Regions from separate parts of the Homo sapiens genome. Here region 2 is linked to region 1. Evidence: fine-mapped expression QTL. Tissue or cell type: vagina. Region 1 holds a variant in brackets; the other region holds the start of a gene. All regions are shown on one strand. Distances are from middle to middle.

Region 1 (8,102 bases):
AAAGCACATGAAAAGATGTCCACCATCACTAATCATTAGGGAAATACAAATCAAAACCACAATGACATACCATCTCAAACCCATTAGGTTGGCTACTTTCAAAAAACGAACCCGAAAGTAAGTGTGGACAAGGACGTGGAGAAATTGGAACCCTCATGCACTGTCGGCAGGACTGTAAAATGATGCAACCCTCATGGAAAAGTGTGTTAATTCCTCAAAAAATTAAGAGTAGAATTATATGATTCAGCAATTTCACTTCTGGATGGATATACATCCACAAGATTTGAAAGCAGGTCATGACAAGATATTTACACACCTATGTTCATAGTAGCATTATTCACAAAAGCCAAAGGTGGAAGCAACCCAAATGTCCATTGACAAGTGAATAAAGTGCAGTGTATACATACAATGGATTATTCAGCCTTAAAAAGAAAAGAAATTATGATACATAGTACAGCACAGATGGACTCTGGGGACATTATGCTAAGTTAAATAAAAAGACAAATGCTATATGATTTCACTTACATGAGGTACCTGGAGGAGTCAAATTCATCCAGACAGAAAGTAAAACGATTGCTGCCAGGGGCTGGGTGGAGGGGAGAATGGGAAATTTGTCTTTAATAAGTACAGAGTTTCAATTCGGGATGGTGACAAGAGTCCTGGAGATTAAGTATGTTCACACTGTTATGTGAATATTCACATAGCATTGTTTATATTCATATTGTCATGTGAATATACGTAACTCTACTAAACTGTATACTTAAAAATGGTAAAGATGGTAAAATTTGTGTCATGTGAATGCTACTGCAATTAAAAAGAGAAGGACCTGTTCTCCATCTTCAGACTGCTCATGTTTTTGTACTAGTGAGGTGCCTCACCACTCCTCAGTCTAAGGCTTTCCGTGGCTATTCTGTTTAGGTACTTCGTCCCCATATAGTTGGCATGTCTTCTGTGTGGACATGGCCTTTCTGCTTTCTCTATAATGTGCTAGTCTAAAACTTCTTTAATTTGCAAGCCAGAAACCAGAGGCTTAGTGAATGAGACTTGTTCAGTGTCAGAAAACTACTGCAGAGCCCAGGAAGACCCTGATGTATCCCACTGGCTCTGGCTCACTTGAAGTCACCCTTTTTTTTCTTCTGAAAGAAACTTTTGGTTACACTGTCCCCAGAACTCTCAGAAGGTCATCAGCTCAAACAAACGCACTGGCAGTTAGTGCCAGGCAAAATGGGATACCCTTTCTCCAGGTTCAAGCTCATCAGGATCCTCTTTCTGGCTGTTGAGACAAAGCAGGTGGTCTCTAGAAGGAATGTCTCATTTCCCAGTGCCTCCAACCCTCTTCTCTCAAATGGAGTTAAAGAGCCCTCTTGGTAGTGAGCCCCTGCCCCAGCCCTTATGTCAGAGGATAGCAGGCTCAGAAGATAGCAGCCTTCTTTTCATGAGTCTTCACATCTACCTTGACCGTATCATTCAGAAGGACTCAGAGCCGCTGAGGCTCAAAGTTAGAAATGGAAATGGGTTTTTCGCCTGCTTTGGATCCTGACATCCAGAAGTGATCCACCCTTACAGGACTTGAGTACCATGGTAATACATGTAGGAAAGGTGGAAAAGGCGAAAGGCAAGAGGCGAGAGAGAGAGAACACACCAGCTTCGGAAATGAACTGGTAATTTAAAAGTGTGCATCATCTCCAACAGCCTCTCTCTCTGGGAGTTTCCTAAATGACTACAACAATAAGAGGATGGAAAGCAGTGGGTTACTCAGCCCGCAGCCTCTCTGGCCAGGCTCACTCTCACTGCCTGGTGTCATTTCTCTCTGCCTTATGCCCTGATGTTTGGAATCCAGCCAGAGCCAGGCTTATAGATAGTTTGTAGGTCACTTCGATCATGCTATTTTCAGATTCAGTGATAGAAATAGCTCATACAAGCTTCTCACAGTTATTCCTGCTCTATTTACGGATGGCACCACAACATGGTTTGGAAGAAAAAGAATATAATCCTGGATCACGTCAGGGTCCTGGATCTGTAATATGACGTGTTGGCTCACAGGCTTTATGCAAGTCACTCAGCCTCTTGAAGATGTAGTATGTGTATTATAAAATGGTACATTGCAGTATCTGCTTCAAAGGATTGTTGTAGCAATCAAATAAAACAATCTATAAATAAACTATTCACTGCTATACAAACAGAAGTGAAAACATGTAGTCCTCATGCCAAATCCAGTCTGCTCCATTCCTTGCTCAGCTTGTACACTTTTAAATCATTGGAATGACTTCAGACCAGCTTGGACTCTCCAGATACCACAGTCTCCACTTCTCCATATTGTCTCACATCTAGCCTACTTTTTACTCATAATGTTGCCTTAAAAGCTTGCATTTGAGATCCGAATATGGTACTCTAAAGATAAGCAGAATACAGCATTGCAGACGAGGCATAGGACCTATAGCCTGGCACATCCAGAAATGTGACTTTGCAAGCACATCAAGAAAGGGGCTTTAATCAGAGGCAGCCTCAGACTCACTGGGCTGATAACAGCGATGTCAAAAACCAGAGTGTCCAATTATGAATTTTCAATGACAAAGAAAATGGTCCTGAAGATTGGAATCCCTTGTCACTACCTTTATATTGACAATATGCTACAAGCAAAGCATCACTACAGTTAGAAGATTCCTCGGCTTATATAACACTGGCACTAAAATAAGTAAATCGATAAAGCAGTGGTACATGCTAGGAAGCCCAAAAATAGAATTTAGCATACATAGGAATTTAGTATCCAGTAAAGGTGGCATTTCCAACCAGTGAGAAGGTGATAGATTTATTTCGTAAATGCAGTTAGGGTAATTTGTTAACTGTTTGTGAAAATACAGTTACTTTATATTATGGTCTTCACACTATAAACCAATATAAGCTCCAAATGGATAAAAGCACTAAAATTTTTCATTAAAAACAACATAAAAAACCTAGAAGAAAATATAAGTGAATACTTATCTGCTCTCATGTAGAAAAGACACTCCTAAGCATAAAAGCAAAGGAAGAAACTCTAAAAGAAAAAAATTATAAGCTTTACTACATAAACATTTAAATACTTATAAAGATCTGAAGATGCCACAAATAAAATTAAGAGGAAACAAGCCAAAAAGAAAAAAAAAAAGGCCAGGAGCAGTGGCTCATGCCTGTAATCCCTGCACTTAGGGGAGGCCGAGGCAGGCTGACCACTTGAGGCCCGGAGTTCGAGACCAGCCTGGCCAACGTGGCGAAACCCCATCTCTACTGAAAAAAAGAAACAGAAAAATCAGCCAGGTCTATACCTGTAATCCCGGCTAATCAGGAGGCTGAGGCAGGAGAATCGCTTGAACCTGGGAGGCAGAGGTTTCGGTGAGCTGATAGCATGTCACTACACTCTAGCCTGGGTGATGGAGTGAGACTCTGTCTCAAAATAAAATAAAATAAAATAAAAAATAGAAAATCAGCAACCTGGGGCCAGGCATACAGTGATAAACAAAACACATGGGACCTACACCTTCACAGAATTTTCAACCCCATGGACAACAGACATTAAAAGCAGGACCACCTTCAAATAAATCATTAGACATAGAGATATGTCCCTCTGAAGCCAAAAAATTGAAAGTCATACCAGGGACCTCTCCAGTTAA[T/C]AGTCAAGGAAGGTCTCTCTGAATGTGTTATTTGTTCTGGGGACTAGGAAGATGAGTAGGAGTGAGGACAAGGGTGGGGAGTAAAGACCCAAGCCAAGAGAAGACCGCTGTGGCATGTGGTGGCAACAGCAGCCAGAAGGACAGTGGAGCACAAGGTTGAAGTGGAAAAATTACAGGAGGAAGGACCGGACAGTTAAGCAGGGCTATGTACGCTGACTTAAAACTTTCATACTTTTAACTGAGTCTTTGAATGGTTCTTATAAATCACTAAGACGAGAACTATATTCCAATAGGCAAGAGGGCAAAGTGGGCAATTCACACAACAGGAAATGCCAATAAATTTTTAAGAGACCAAAAGTCATTAAGGTAGAAGGTTGACCACGGCTGAGAGAAAAGGACAGCCAATGGGTTGAAGGCATGCTTTTGGGGTGATGGAAATATTTCAAAATTGGATCCTTGTGATGGTTGCATAATTATAAATTTATTATGAAATAAATGAATTGCACATTTAAAATGTATTTTATGGTATGTAAATTATACCTTCATAAAGCTATTTTTAAAAATTATTGTTCAACATCTCTAGAATCAAAGAAATGCAAATTAAAATACAATATAATTTATGTTTCAAATTTATACACAATTTAACAAATAACAATATTCAGTGTTGGTAAAATGGAAAATGGGCATTTATATAGAATTCTAATAAATTTGACAATAACTATAAAAGCCTTATTACTTGATCACATACCTTGGAATTTAATATAACCATGAATCTATAAAAAAATTTTGTATGACAATGTTTATCACATAAATACTTGTGAAATGAAAAAACACAGAAAAAGTGTAATGTTGACCAGTAGATGATTATTTAAACAGCAAACAGTACAATTATTTTTAAGAATATGCTATAGAAGAACACAAAGAGGCCAGGCATGGTGGCTTACCCCTGTAATCCCAGCACTTTGGGAGGCCAAGTCAGGCAGATCACTTAAGGCCAGGCATTCTAGACCAGCCTGGCTAATATGGTGAAACCCACCTCTACCAAAAATACAAAAATTAGCCAGGCATGGTAGCAGACACCTGTAATTCCAGCTACTTGGGAGGCTGAGGCAGGAGAATAACTTGAACCCGGGAGTCGGAGCTTGCAGTGAGCTGAGATCGCACCACTGCTTTCCAGCCAGGGCAACAGCATGAGACTCCATTTAAAAAGAAGAAAAAAGAAGAAGGAAGAAGAAAGAAGAAAGAACAATAAGAAGAATGCATAGTTACATGAAGAAGAGGTGACACGTTAAGTCAAAAATTACAAAACAGCATAGTATGATAGTATGATCCCTATATGGAGAAATCAGACATGCTTCTATAGAAAAAGTCTTAAAGGGCAGGAATCTAGGTATCAGCGTTAGGTATCAATTAGCTGTTACCACAAAATGCTGTTTAACAGAATACCCCAAAGCCTATAAGAAGCACTTGTTTTTTGTGTGTTATTAGGATGTCTCTCCTGAGGGAAGCAAGGCAATAGGGCTGCAGGGGAGGTCCTGGTCCACACATCTCTCCAGTGCCTATGCTATCCAGGCATCTTTTATCATGGCAGAAGCATAAGAGGGCAAGCCCAACTGCAGGAGCACATCTCTAGCCTCTGCATGCATCACTTCTGCCCACATTCCACCAGGCCAAAGTAAGTCACAGAGCCAAAGCCCAAGACAAGGGGTAAGGAGATGCACTTGCCAGTCGGGGTAGACACTGCAAGTTATTGGGGGTCCAAGAATGGGCAACAATAATGCATTCTACACAATATCAAAAGTTTAAATGTGATTATTTCCGAGTGAAGCAGATGTGTTGCTTTGTTTTCTTTTGTTTACTTTTACATATTGCATTACTCAGCTATTTTCTAGGTTTACTTCCTGCTCATGTTATACACATCTATGGGAAAACAGTGGCTCTATCTCACAGGTCCTTCTACACTCAATAAAAGAACCTCTCCCACGTGAGGCAGGCCATTCTAAAGCACTGGAAAAAGAACAATGACAGAAATTGGAAAGGTTTTTAAAGCCTCTGCTGGACAGCTGAATGTCACTTCCAGTCACATTCCATTGGCCAAAAACCTCACAGAGCAAGCCTGGCACGATCAGTCAAAGAGGGGATCACACACCTGTAGTAGGTAGGGGACTGCAATTCACATAGCAGTGGATGGGAGTGAAAAGGCCATGAATAGTGCAAATAGTAGTGTCATCTACATACTTACTAGCATTTCCAGCTTTTCTATAATGGCCACGAATGGTTTTATTTTTATTTATCTAATTATTTATTTCTTTCTATTAGAAGCTAGACATGAACAGAAAATTTACTTTTTCAAATTTCCTTGCCATTTTTAAGGTTTTGTTTTTATCACACATGCTTTTATTTCATGCATGCTTTAGAAGGCATTAGCCCCTGCCCTCTCCTCTCCATCTCCCTCATTGCTTAATCACCAGAACCCAACACCTTCAACAGTTATAGCATTCAGTTAGTATTAGGTTGGTGAAAAAGTAATTGTGGTTTTTGCCATTACTTTTAATTTGCCTCCACTCCTCTAAGTTGCATGCATATCTAACTACTTCTTGAGTTTTACCAATTCTAGGCTGTCTCTCGACTTGCAGTATAAAAGGTAAGACGTGAGTTTGCTCTCATCTCCACAAGCTCACCACATACACATATTCCTAACCAGCCCCGATGTACCCCCAGTGGAGATGTACTGTGATTGGTTGGCATATTCATCTTCACCTGGTGTACATTACTATTATCACCATACAGACACTGTGCATGGCTAAGCCTCAGGGTACACTGTGAATCTTTTTCCTTCTCAGCACTATTCTGTTCTGTCTCAATTTTTGTTTTTGTTTTGCTTTACCTTTTTCATTTGTTCATCTCTGTGTATTTATCACATTTCAACCCCAACTGTCTGCCCAATGTCTAAATCTCCTCTCAGTATAGTTGGACCCATCAAACATTCCAGCAGTTTCATTTTCTTAAAGAACTCTCTGTCTCTCTCAGAGCCCTGTGTGCTACTCCAATCTGGCTTACTTGCCTTTGATGCATCCTAGTATCTCCCTTCACTATCATCCTGGCATTTCTTTCGTCTATCTTCAGTGTAGAAATTCCTGTTTCCTATAACTCATGTCTTCCTCTCTGTTAGTTTACTGTCTCAGTTTGGCAGAGCAAACTTCCCAATAGTTTCCTAAGAAAAGGTGCCTTAGGGGTAAATCTCTTGAAACATTCACGTTTTTATTCTCTCCATACACATAATTGATAAATTTGTATCAATGCGATTGATACAGCATTCCAGGTTACAAATCATTTTGCATAAAAAATTTGAGTAGTCCTAATTTCTGGTGTTGCTGTTGAGGAGTCAGAAGTCATTCTGTTTGCTTATCCTGTGTAGGCAATCTACATTTTTTTTTCCTCCCTGGAAACTTGTAGGATGAACCTTCAGTTCCAGTGTTCTAAAATTTCCTAAAAAGATGTGCCATGATGTGAGTCTGTTATCACTCATTGTTTGAATCTTCACTGGCTCTTCTCATCTGCAAGTGCATGTCTTTCAAATACAGAAAATTTTCTTATTTTTTGATGATTTCCTCTCTTCTGTTTCCCCTCTTCACTCATTATGGAACTATGATTCAGATACTAGTCTTTCAGGACAGGCTGTCTCATTTTTAATATTTTCACCCCTGCTTTCCATCCTCTTCACTTTTGGCTCTACTTTCTCTGAGAATACCTTAACTTTATCTCCCAACCATCATACTTTTAATTTCTAAAAAAAAAAAAAAGTCTTGTTCTCTGAATGTTCCTTTTTAAAATACCATGTTCTTGTTTCAGGATTGCACTATATTCTCTTATTTCCCTAAAGATATTTAGATGATTTTATTTTTTGTATTCTCTCTGTAGTCTCTGTTCCATCAAGTTGCCTTTTTCTATTTCTTTATTCTGGTGTTGATCTTTCTAGATGGAAGCTTTCCTCAGATCTATCTCTGACTTTCCTTGTCATCTCCTTATCTTTAAGACTGGGTGTCTGAGAGCACGGAGCATGTGAATGAGTCTTGTGGACTATCACACTGGAGTAATCTGGTTGGCCTGTTACATTGGAAAACCCCCAGCGTGGTAACATTGTACCTGAACTGGTGCAATCTCTAGAGAAGGTTTTTCTAACCTCTTGCTTGAAAGATAAAAATAGGGTGGCGAGGTGGCTCACACCTGTAATCCCAGCACTTTGGGAGGCTAAGACAGGCAGATCACTTGAGGCCAGGAGTTCGAGACCAGCCTGGCCAATATGATGAAACCCCTTCTCTACTTAAAAAAAAATTAGCTGGATGTGATGGCACATGCCTGCAATCCCAACTACTGGGGAGGTTGAGGCATGAGAATCACTTGAACCTGGGAGGTGGAGGCTGCAGTGGGTTGAACACCATTGAACTCCAGCCT
Region 2 (8,102 bases), 840 kb after region 1:
TTTCATTATCCCCTAGAGTCCTCTGAGACATGCTGAAGGGAAGCAAGCTGATTTGACCTATCCAGCCTGGGTCCTTTACCTGTGAGGAGGTGGGCCTAGAAATCTGCAGAGACTGAATTGGAACTCCCACCTGTCAGAGAACTGAGGTCCCAATCAATTCTCACTCAGCCTGGGCTTGGCTGAACCCTGGCCCTCCTCAGGGCCTGAGGCCCAGACACTGGCCACCCTGGCTCAGAGTCTGGACTGCAGGCTCCACACCACAGCACAGAGCCCACTCTGGGCAGGTCAGCATTTCCTGTGCCTCAGCCCCACTGGGGAATGGGTCCTAAAAGGTGAGGCAGGTCCTGTGAAGCCCGAGACCCCAAAACTCTAGGTTCTATAATTCTGACAGGGGCTATTCTTCCTTCCCGAGGGAAACTGATTCCTTTCCCTCTCGTCATATTGAGAGGTGACAGCGTGCTGGCAGTCCTCACAGCGCTCTCGGCGCCTCCTCTGCCTGGGTTCCCACTTTGGCGGCACTTGAGGAGCCCTTCAGCCCACCGCTGCACTTTGGGAGCCCCTTTCTGGGCTGGCCAAGGCCGGAGCCGGCTCCCTCAGCTTGTAGGGAGGTGTGGAGGGAAAGGCACGAACGGGAACCGGGGCTGCGCGCGGCGATTGCGGGCCAGCTGGAGTTCCGGGTGGGCTTGGGCTTGGCGGGCCCCGCACTCGGAGCAGCCGGCCGGCCCTGCAGGCCCCGGGCAATGAGGGGCTTAGCACCCGGGCCAGCAGCTGCGGAGGGTGTACTGGGTCCCCCAGCAGTGCCAGCCCACCGGCGCTGCGCTCGATTTCTCACCGGGCCTTAGCTGCCTTCCCGCGGGGCAGCGCTCGGGACCTGAAGCCCGCCCATACCGGAGCCTCCCACCCGCTCCGTGGGCTCCTGTGCGGCCGGAGCCTCCCCGACGAGCGCCGCCCCCTGCTCCAGGGCGCCCAGTCCCATCGACCACCCAAGGGCTGAGGAGTGCGGGCGCACGGCGCGGGAGCACGGCGCGGGACTGGCAGGCAGCTCCACCTGCAGCCCCGGTGCGGGATCCACTCGGTGAAGCCAGCTGGGCTCCTGAGTCTGGTGGGGACGTGGAGAACCTTTATGTCTAGCCCAGGGATTGTAAATACACCAATGGGCACTCTGTATCTAGCTCAAGGTTTGTAAACACACCAATCAGCACCGTGTGTCTAGCTCAGGGTTTGTGAGTGCACCAATCGACACTCTGTGTCTAGCTGCTCTGGTGGGGCCTTGGAGAACCTTTGTGTCAACACTCTGCATCTAGTTAATCTGATGGGGACGTGGAGAACCTTTGTGTCTAGCTCAGGGATTGTAAACGCACCAATCAGCGCCCTGTCAAAACAGACCACTGGGCTCTACCAATCAGCAGGATGAGGGTGGGGCCAGATAAGAGAATAAAAGCAGGCTGCCCAAGGTAGCAGTGGCAACTCGCTTGGGTTCCTTTCCACACTGTGGAAGTTTTTTTCTTTCACTTTTTGCAATAAGTTGCTGCTGTTCGTTCTTTGGGTTTCCCACTGCTTTTGTGAGCTGTAACACTGACGGCAAAGGTGTGCAGCTTCACTCCTGAAGTCAGCGAGACCACGAACCCAACAGGCGGAACTAAAAACTCCAGACGCGCCGCCTTAAGAGCTGTAGCACTCACCGCGAGGGTCTGCAGCTTCACCCCTAAGCCAGCGAGACCATCGAACCCACTAGAAGGAAGAAAGTCCAAACACATCCGAACATCAGAGCAAACTCCAGACGTGCCACCTTAAGAGCTGTAACACTCCCTGCAAGGGTCTACAGCTTCATTCTTGAAGTCAGTGAGACCAATGAACCTACCAATTCCGGACACAATATGATGTCAGTGATAAGCAGAGACACTGGTTTTTGTTTCTTAGAGAGACACTATTTTGCTGTCACCCAGTCTGGACTGCAGGGGCACGATCATAGCTCATTGCAGCCTCGAACTCCTGGGTTCAAGTGATCCTCCTCCCACCTCAGTCTCCCGAGCAGCTTGGACTACAGGCACATACCACCACACCTGGTTATTTTGTATTTTTATTTTTTGTCAAGACAGGATCTTCATATGTTGCCCAGGCTGGTCAACAGCCTTGGCCTCCTAAAGTGCTAGGATTTCAGGCTTGAGCCACCACACTCAGCTGCAGACTTTTTTTTTTTTTTTTTTTTTTTTGAGACGGTCTCACTCTGTTGCCCGGGCTGGAGTGCACTGGCACGATCTTGGCTCACTGCAACCTCTGCCTCTCGGGTTCAAGTGATTCTCCCACCTTAGCCTCCACATACCACCACGCTTGGCTAATTTTTTTGTATTTTTAGTAGAGACGGGTTTTCACCATGTTGGCCAGGCTGGTCTCAAACTCCTGGCCTCAAGTGATCAAACCGCCTTGGCCTCCCAAAGTGCTGGGATTACAGGTGTGAGCCACCGCCCACAGCCCATAAACATTTTCTGATAGCCCTGTCAAAAAAGTAAAAAGCAACACGTGAAGTTAATTTTAACAATATACGTTATTTAACCCAACACACCTAATAGTCATTTCAATATGTAATCAATATAAGCCATGGTTGTTGCAGTTTCACACTTTCCTTTCTTACTGTATCTTCCAAATCGGGGTGTGCTTGGCACGGCACATCTTGGTTGGGACCAGCACATTTCAGGAGCTCATCAGCCCATGTGCCTGGGGCTGACTGAGACTTCAATTCAGGAGGAATTGTAATTTCTCTTCGAAAACACCTCCCTTAGCTCCCGCCTTAATCCCAGCTACTCAGGAGGCCCTGGCGGGAGGGTCGCTTGAGGCCAGGAGCTGGAGATCATCCTAGGCAGCACAGTGAGACCTCCCCTCCCAGTAAAAAAACAAAAAAAAAAAACAATTGGCCAGGCGTGGTGGCGCGCGCCTGTGGACCCAGCTACTCTGGAGGCCGGGGTTGGAGGATCGCATGAGTCCAGGAGTTGGAGGCTGCAATGAGCAGAGATCGCGCCACTACACTCCAGCCTGGGCGACCAAGCGAGACCCTGTCTCGGAAGAAAGGAAAGAAAAAAAAAAAAAAAAAAAACACCTCCCAGCCAACTCTCAGGGCCCACCGCTGGCGGTTCCCAGCCCGACTGGGCGCCCCCAGCCGGGGTTAGCCAGCGCCACGCAGCCGGGCCGGGAAGGGGCGGAGCGGCCGGGCCCCGCCCCCCTCGTCGCGCCGGGGCCGCCGGGGCCACGGGGCTGCCTCCTCCGCCTAGAGCGCTGCCGCCGCCGCTTTCGCCCGGGAGCCGGGGGCCGGGCGCCATCATGCTGAGCCGGCTCGGGGCGCTGCTGCAGGAAGCCGTGGGGGCGGTGAGGCCGGCAGGGCCGGGCCGGGCCGCCGGGAGTCGCGGGCCTAGGCCGGGCTGGGCGGGCGCGGAGCCGGGCGCGGCCCGCAGGAGGGCGGGCGGGCGCGGGCCCCCTCGGGCAGGGACCCCCGGGCCGCGGCGCCCCTTCCTCTGCCTCCCCGGCCGCGCCCCGCTTCCCCTCGCTCTTCCCAGTCCCGCTCCCAGACTCCTCCCGACCGCCCCACCTCCCCGGCCTGCTCCCGCGTCGCTTCCTGTCTGTGCGTCCTGGCCCCGGAGTCTCTCCCAATTCCCGAACTCGCCTCCGCCGGGACGCTCCCTGTCACCGCTTGGGGTGTTTCCTGCCCCCCGGGGCCCTAGGCCGCCTCCCCCCAGTCCCGGTGGGCCTGCCTCCTTCCTCCGCTCCACCCCACCGCCTCGCCTGGGCTTGAAAAAATCGCCGTCCCTTCCCCTCGGTCTGATCTCCCAGACAACTCCAGGACCTTGTTGGGGTGCAGGACGCCCTTCCCGTCACCCCGGGACGTGGGAAGTGCAGGCCCTGCCGGTCCAAGTCCCCACGAAGGGTAAAGACCCGGGGCAGGCTGGTGGGCCCCCAGCCGGGGAAATCGCCTTCTATTGGGTGCAGATGTTTCCAGCGTGGCTGTGACCCCTCACAAGCCAAATTGAGTTAGGGACATGCCGCCCGTGGTGGGGCCTGGGTGGCCCTGTGCGGGGAGGAGAGTCCATTGATGTTTCACGTGCCGTCAGTTTGTGTTTTTGCCATTTTTTGTTGGGGCTGCAGGCTGGCAGGCAGCCTACTACTAGGGTTCGTTCAGCAAGATGTAGCGCTGTGTAGGAAGGGTGGGGGTATTCCCGGTAGGGTGGGGGGGGTGCCCGCTGTTGAAAGTAACTCTGCCAAGAAGCTGTCTGTAAAGTCAGCAATACTTCTGCCTCCTAGTATAAATCTTCCCCCAATTGATGAGTTGAGTATCAGATTTTCTCAGGAGAGAAAGTCTTGGGTTTCACCCTCCTTCCTCCCCACCACCTCCTCCCCAACCCTCATGGGAGCTCCTGTTGAAAGAAGTTTGCCTTAGGCAAAGTTGGGAAGAAAGTCAGAAACTATGACTTCCTCCACCTTCCCAGCCCTGCTGTTGACCCAGGGCCAGGGCCTTGGGGCATCCAGGTAGAGAGGGTTCCAAAATGATTTTTCTTCCCCTTCCCCCATCCCCAGTCAAAACAGCTGTGATCTTCAAAAGTGATCTGATAAACCAATTCATACCTCTGGGGAACACTCCATTTACAGGAGGTGAGACAGGCCAGACAGTTCCTCAGTCCTGAGGAGTGAATTTCTTTCTTTTTCTTTTCTTTTTATTATTTATTTATTTATTTCTGAGCCCAGGCTAGACTACAGTGGTGCGATCTCCGCTCATTGCAGCCTCCACCTCCTGGGCTCAAGCAATCCTCCCACCTCAGCCTCCTGAGTAGCTGGGACTACAGGCATGCGGCACCACGCCAGGCTAATTTTTGTATTTTTTGTAGAGACAGGGTTTCAACATGTTGCCCAGGCTGGTCTTGAGCTCCTGGCCTCAAGCGATCCTTAGCCTCCCAAAGTGGTGGGATTACAGGCATGAGCCACCGCACCCGGCTAGGAGTCAAATTCTAAGGCTTCCAATGACAGAAGTACAGGCATCAGTGGCAGGAGATTTTGGCAGTGGAGGGAGATCTTTTTAGGCAGGTGATCTTCCGGGCCCTTTAGTATTGACCATATAGGCTATGTCCGGGCGGTGTGGTTGGCCCTACAGGGAGACGGGAATTCCTCTTTTGTGCTCTACCCTCAGGTCGCCAGTCTAGGTCTTTCCCAAGCCTTGGTCACCAAGTGTGATCCTAGTAAGTCAACTGATTACTCATTGAGTAGGAAGACTGCTCCTTCCCGCCCTCTTCTGATCTAACAGATTAGGAATCATTACAGCTTTTTTTTTTTTTTTTTTTTTTTTTTTTTAAGATGGAGTCTTCCACTGTCACCCAGGCTGGAGTGCAGTGGGGCGATCTCAGCTGACTGCAACCTCCACCTCAAGTGGTTCTCCTGCCTCAGCCTCCTGAGTAGCTGGGACTACAGGGCTGCGCCACCACGCCCAGCTAATATTTGTAATTTTAGTAGAGATGAGGTTTCGCCATGTTGGCCAGGCTGGTCTCGAACTCCTGACCTTAAGTGATCCACCTGCCTTGGCCTCCCAAAGTGCTAGGATTACAGGTGTGAGCCACCACCATGTCTGGCCACTAATAATATCGTTAAAGAGAAATTGTTGGGTCTAGTGCCTTTGGTTTGGAGTTATCATAGCTGGTGGTGGAGTTAGGTAAAGATCACACACCTGTGTCACCAGCTCTCTAATGGCCTGTGCTGGTTAACCTGCCTCTCCCGTGTCTCCTGCCGTACTGGAGTATTCTTTTTGGTTAAAGCCCAGCTCAAGGTTTTCAAAGACTATAAGCCAATTTTGAGGCTAAAGGAGACCCCATCACAGAAATTATGAGATAATTGTAGGGCTGGTGAAGGGCCAGAGGACTTTCTAAAACAAGGAACTAGGGAAAGAATCTCTCCAGGAGTTTCCTGAGATATCTGGTAAATATTCATGGGTATTCACTATGTGCTGAGCCCATTGAGGGCAGGCTAGCTGTAAAACACAGAACCCTGGCTCTCAGGGAGCTCATCATCTAGCAGAAGAGATGATTGCTCAGCACAGCAGGCACTGTCACATAGAATGTAGTGAGATGCGGTCACTGCACAGGGATGGAATATTTGGAATAACTGTGGGTGGTGCTACTTTTGAGAAGGGTTGCAGCCCCTACCAACTAGCTTTGCAAGAAGACAAGATGCCCTGCGGACTGAGGGGAGTTTCCAGTTCTGTGAATGTCATCCCTCCCTCCCCATGTTGCAGTGGCCTTCTAAGCATATTCTTCCTGCCTTTACCTCCTCTCCCAAGGCCAACTGCCAGATGAGTCTTCCGAAAACACTGCTCAGAAGGTGCCAATGGCCGGGTGTGGTGGCTCATGCCTGTAATCCCAGCACTTTGGGAGGCCCAGGTGGGCGGACCACTTGAGGTCAGGAGTTTGAGACCAGCCTGGCCAACATGGTGAAACCCCGTCTCTACTAAAAATACAAAAATCAGCCAGGCGTGGTGGCACATGTCTGTAATCCCAGCAACTTGGGAGGCAGGAGAATCACTTGAACCCAGGAAGCGGAGGTTACAGTGAGCTGAGATGGTGCCACTGCACTCTAGCCTCAGTGACGGTGAGACTCTTTTTTTTTTTTTTTGAGACTCTGTCTCAGAAGAAAAAAAAAAAGTTGTCATTGACCTGCTCCCTGCTGCCTGCAAAAAATGACTGAGACTTCTTGGCTTGGCATTAGAGACTCCGAAGTCTCGCCAGCCCACCCCTTCCCCAGGCACACTTTGCAGAGTTCCTTCTGCAGGGACTGTCTTCCTTCTCTTGTTGATATTGACCTGGTTCTTCAAGTTTTAGTTGAGATGTGATCTTGGTAAAGCCTTCCCTGTTCCAGCCTGTTAGAAGTTACCCCTGTTTTTCTGAGAGGTCACTACTTTCCACCTCTCCTGCGGCCTCACACTACTTCCTTGTAGCTTCGTTATTCAATGCGGTTTTATATCGTCTTCTCCATGACACATTTCTTGAGGACTAGGTGTTAGTCATCCTCATGTTGCTTGTGGCATCTAGCATAGTGTCTTGTACATAGTGGGCACTTAGAATGAACAAATGATTTCATGAGTGGCTACTCAGTTCTGTGGTGCAGTAAAGTGTGAGGTCAGAGAGGTGTGGGCAGGCAGGGACACTGGAGAGGGCTTGGTGGAGCTGCTGGGGACTGAACCTCACTGGGGACTTTCACGATCCAGACAGTTAGTGGGATACAGAGCACCTTGGGCAGAGGAGTGGCCCCAGCAAAGACCTAGAGGCAGAAATGCACAGCTGTGGGGAGGGATGATTAGAATTCTTTTTTTCCTGAAAACATTTACTCTGCAAGAAAAGCGAAGGAATGGTGTTGTTGTTGTTGTTGTTGTTGTTTTTGAGAAGTTTTCAGGGAAAGTGATTGTTCTCAGTGCAAGGCCAGTATCAGCCATGGTGTAGAGATGGAGAGAGCACTCATGGAAAAGGGGGAGGTTAGGGGCTTGCCCAGAGCAGAACCAGAATTTTCCAGGGCTTGATAGAAGGAGCCGGTAGAGGAGGAAACGAGAACAGCACTGGCTGAGGAGTTGGGGTTGTGCAGGCTCAGGCTTTGGACACAAGATGAAAGCATGTAAGCATGTTATAAGGAAGGCACATTGTTAATATCATGCTAATGTTACCTACCCTTCCGGCTGAACAGAGCCTGTGGTGGTCTTGAACAGATTTTCATAGACTCTCAGATTGAGAGGAATGGAAAAGCTTTGTCTTTTTTTTTTTTTTTTTTTTTTTTTTGAGATAGGGTCTCACCTTGTCACCTAGGCTGGAGTGCAGCGCTGCGATCACAATTCACTGAAGCCTTGACCTCCCTGGGCTCAGGTGATCCTCGCACCCCAGCCTCCCAAGTAGCTGGGACTATAGGCAGACACCACCACGTCCTGCTAGTTTTTAAATTGTTTATAGAGACAGAGCTTCATCATGTTGCCGAGGCTGGTTTAAACTCCTGGACTCGAGCCGTCTGCCCACCTTTGCCTCACAAACTGTTGGGCTTACAGGCGTGAGCCACTGCACCTGACCTTTGCCACATTTTCGATCTGTATC

Evidence for each region. PIP is the estimated chance that this variant, and not a neighbour inherited with it, causes the effect.
Region 2: FHIP2B starts here. The variant in region 1 is fine-mapped to the expression of FHIP2B in vagina (GTEx, PIP above 0.99).

Annotation. Positions count from the first base shown.
Region 1 is chr8:21,247,628-21,255,729 of GRCh38, forward strand. No RefSeq gene overlaps it. Among named protein-coding and RNA genes, the nearest start is that of LINC03093, 47 kb to the right of the region's middle. The variant T/C (reference allele first, on the strand shown) is at 3,648.
Region 2 is chr8:22,085,939-22,094,040 of GRCh38, forward strand. It overlaps FHIP2B (FHF complex subunit HOOK interacting protein 2B), which reads left to right and starts at 3,212. Exons shown (of 17, transcript NM_022749.7): 1 at 3,212-3,360. The coding sequence starts at 3,316. RefSeq lists enhancers at 243-852, 3,952-4,091, 8,077-8,102 and silencers at 3,102-3,321, 3,382-3,441, 3,632-3,731.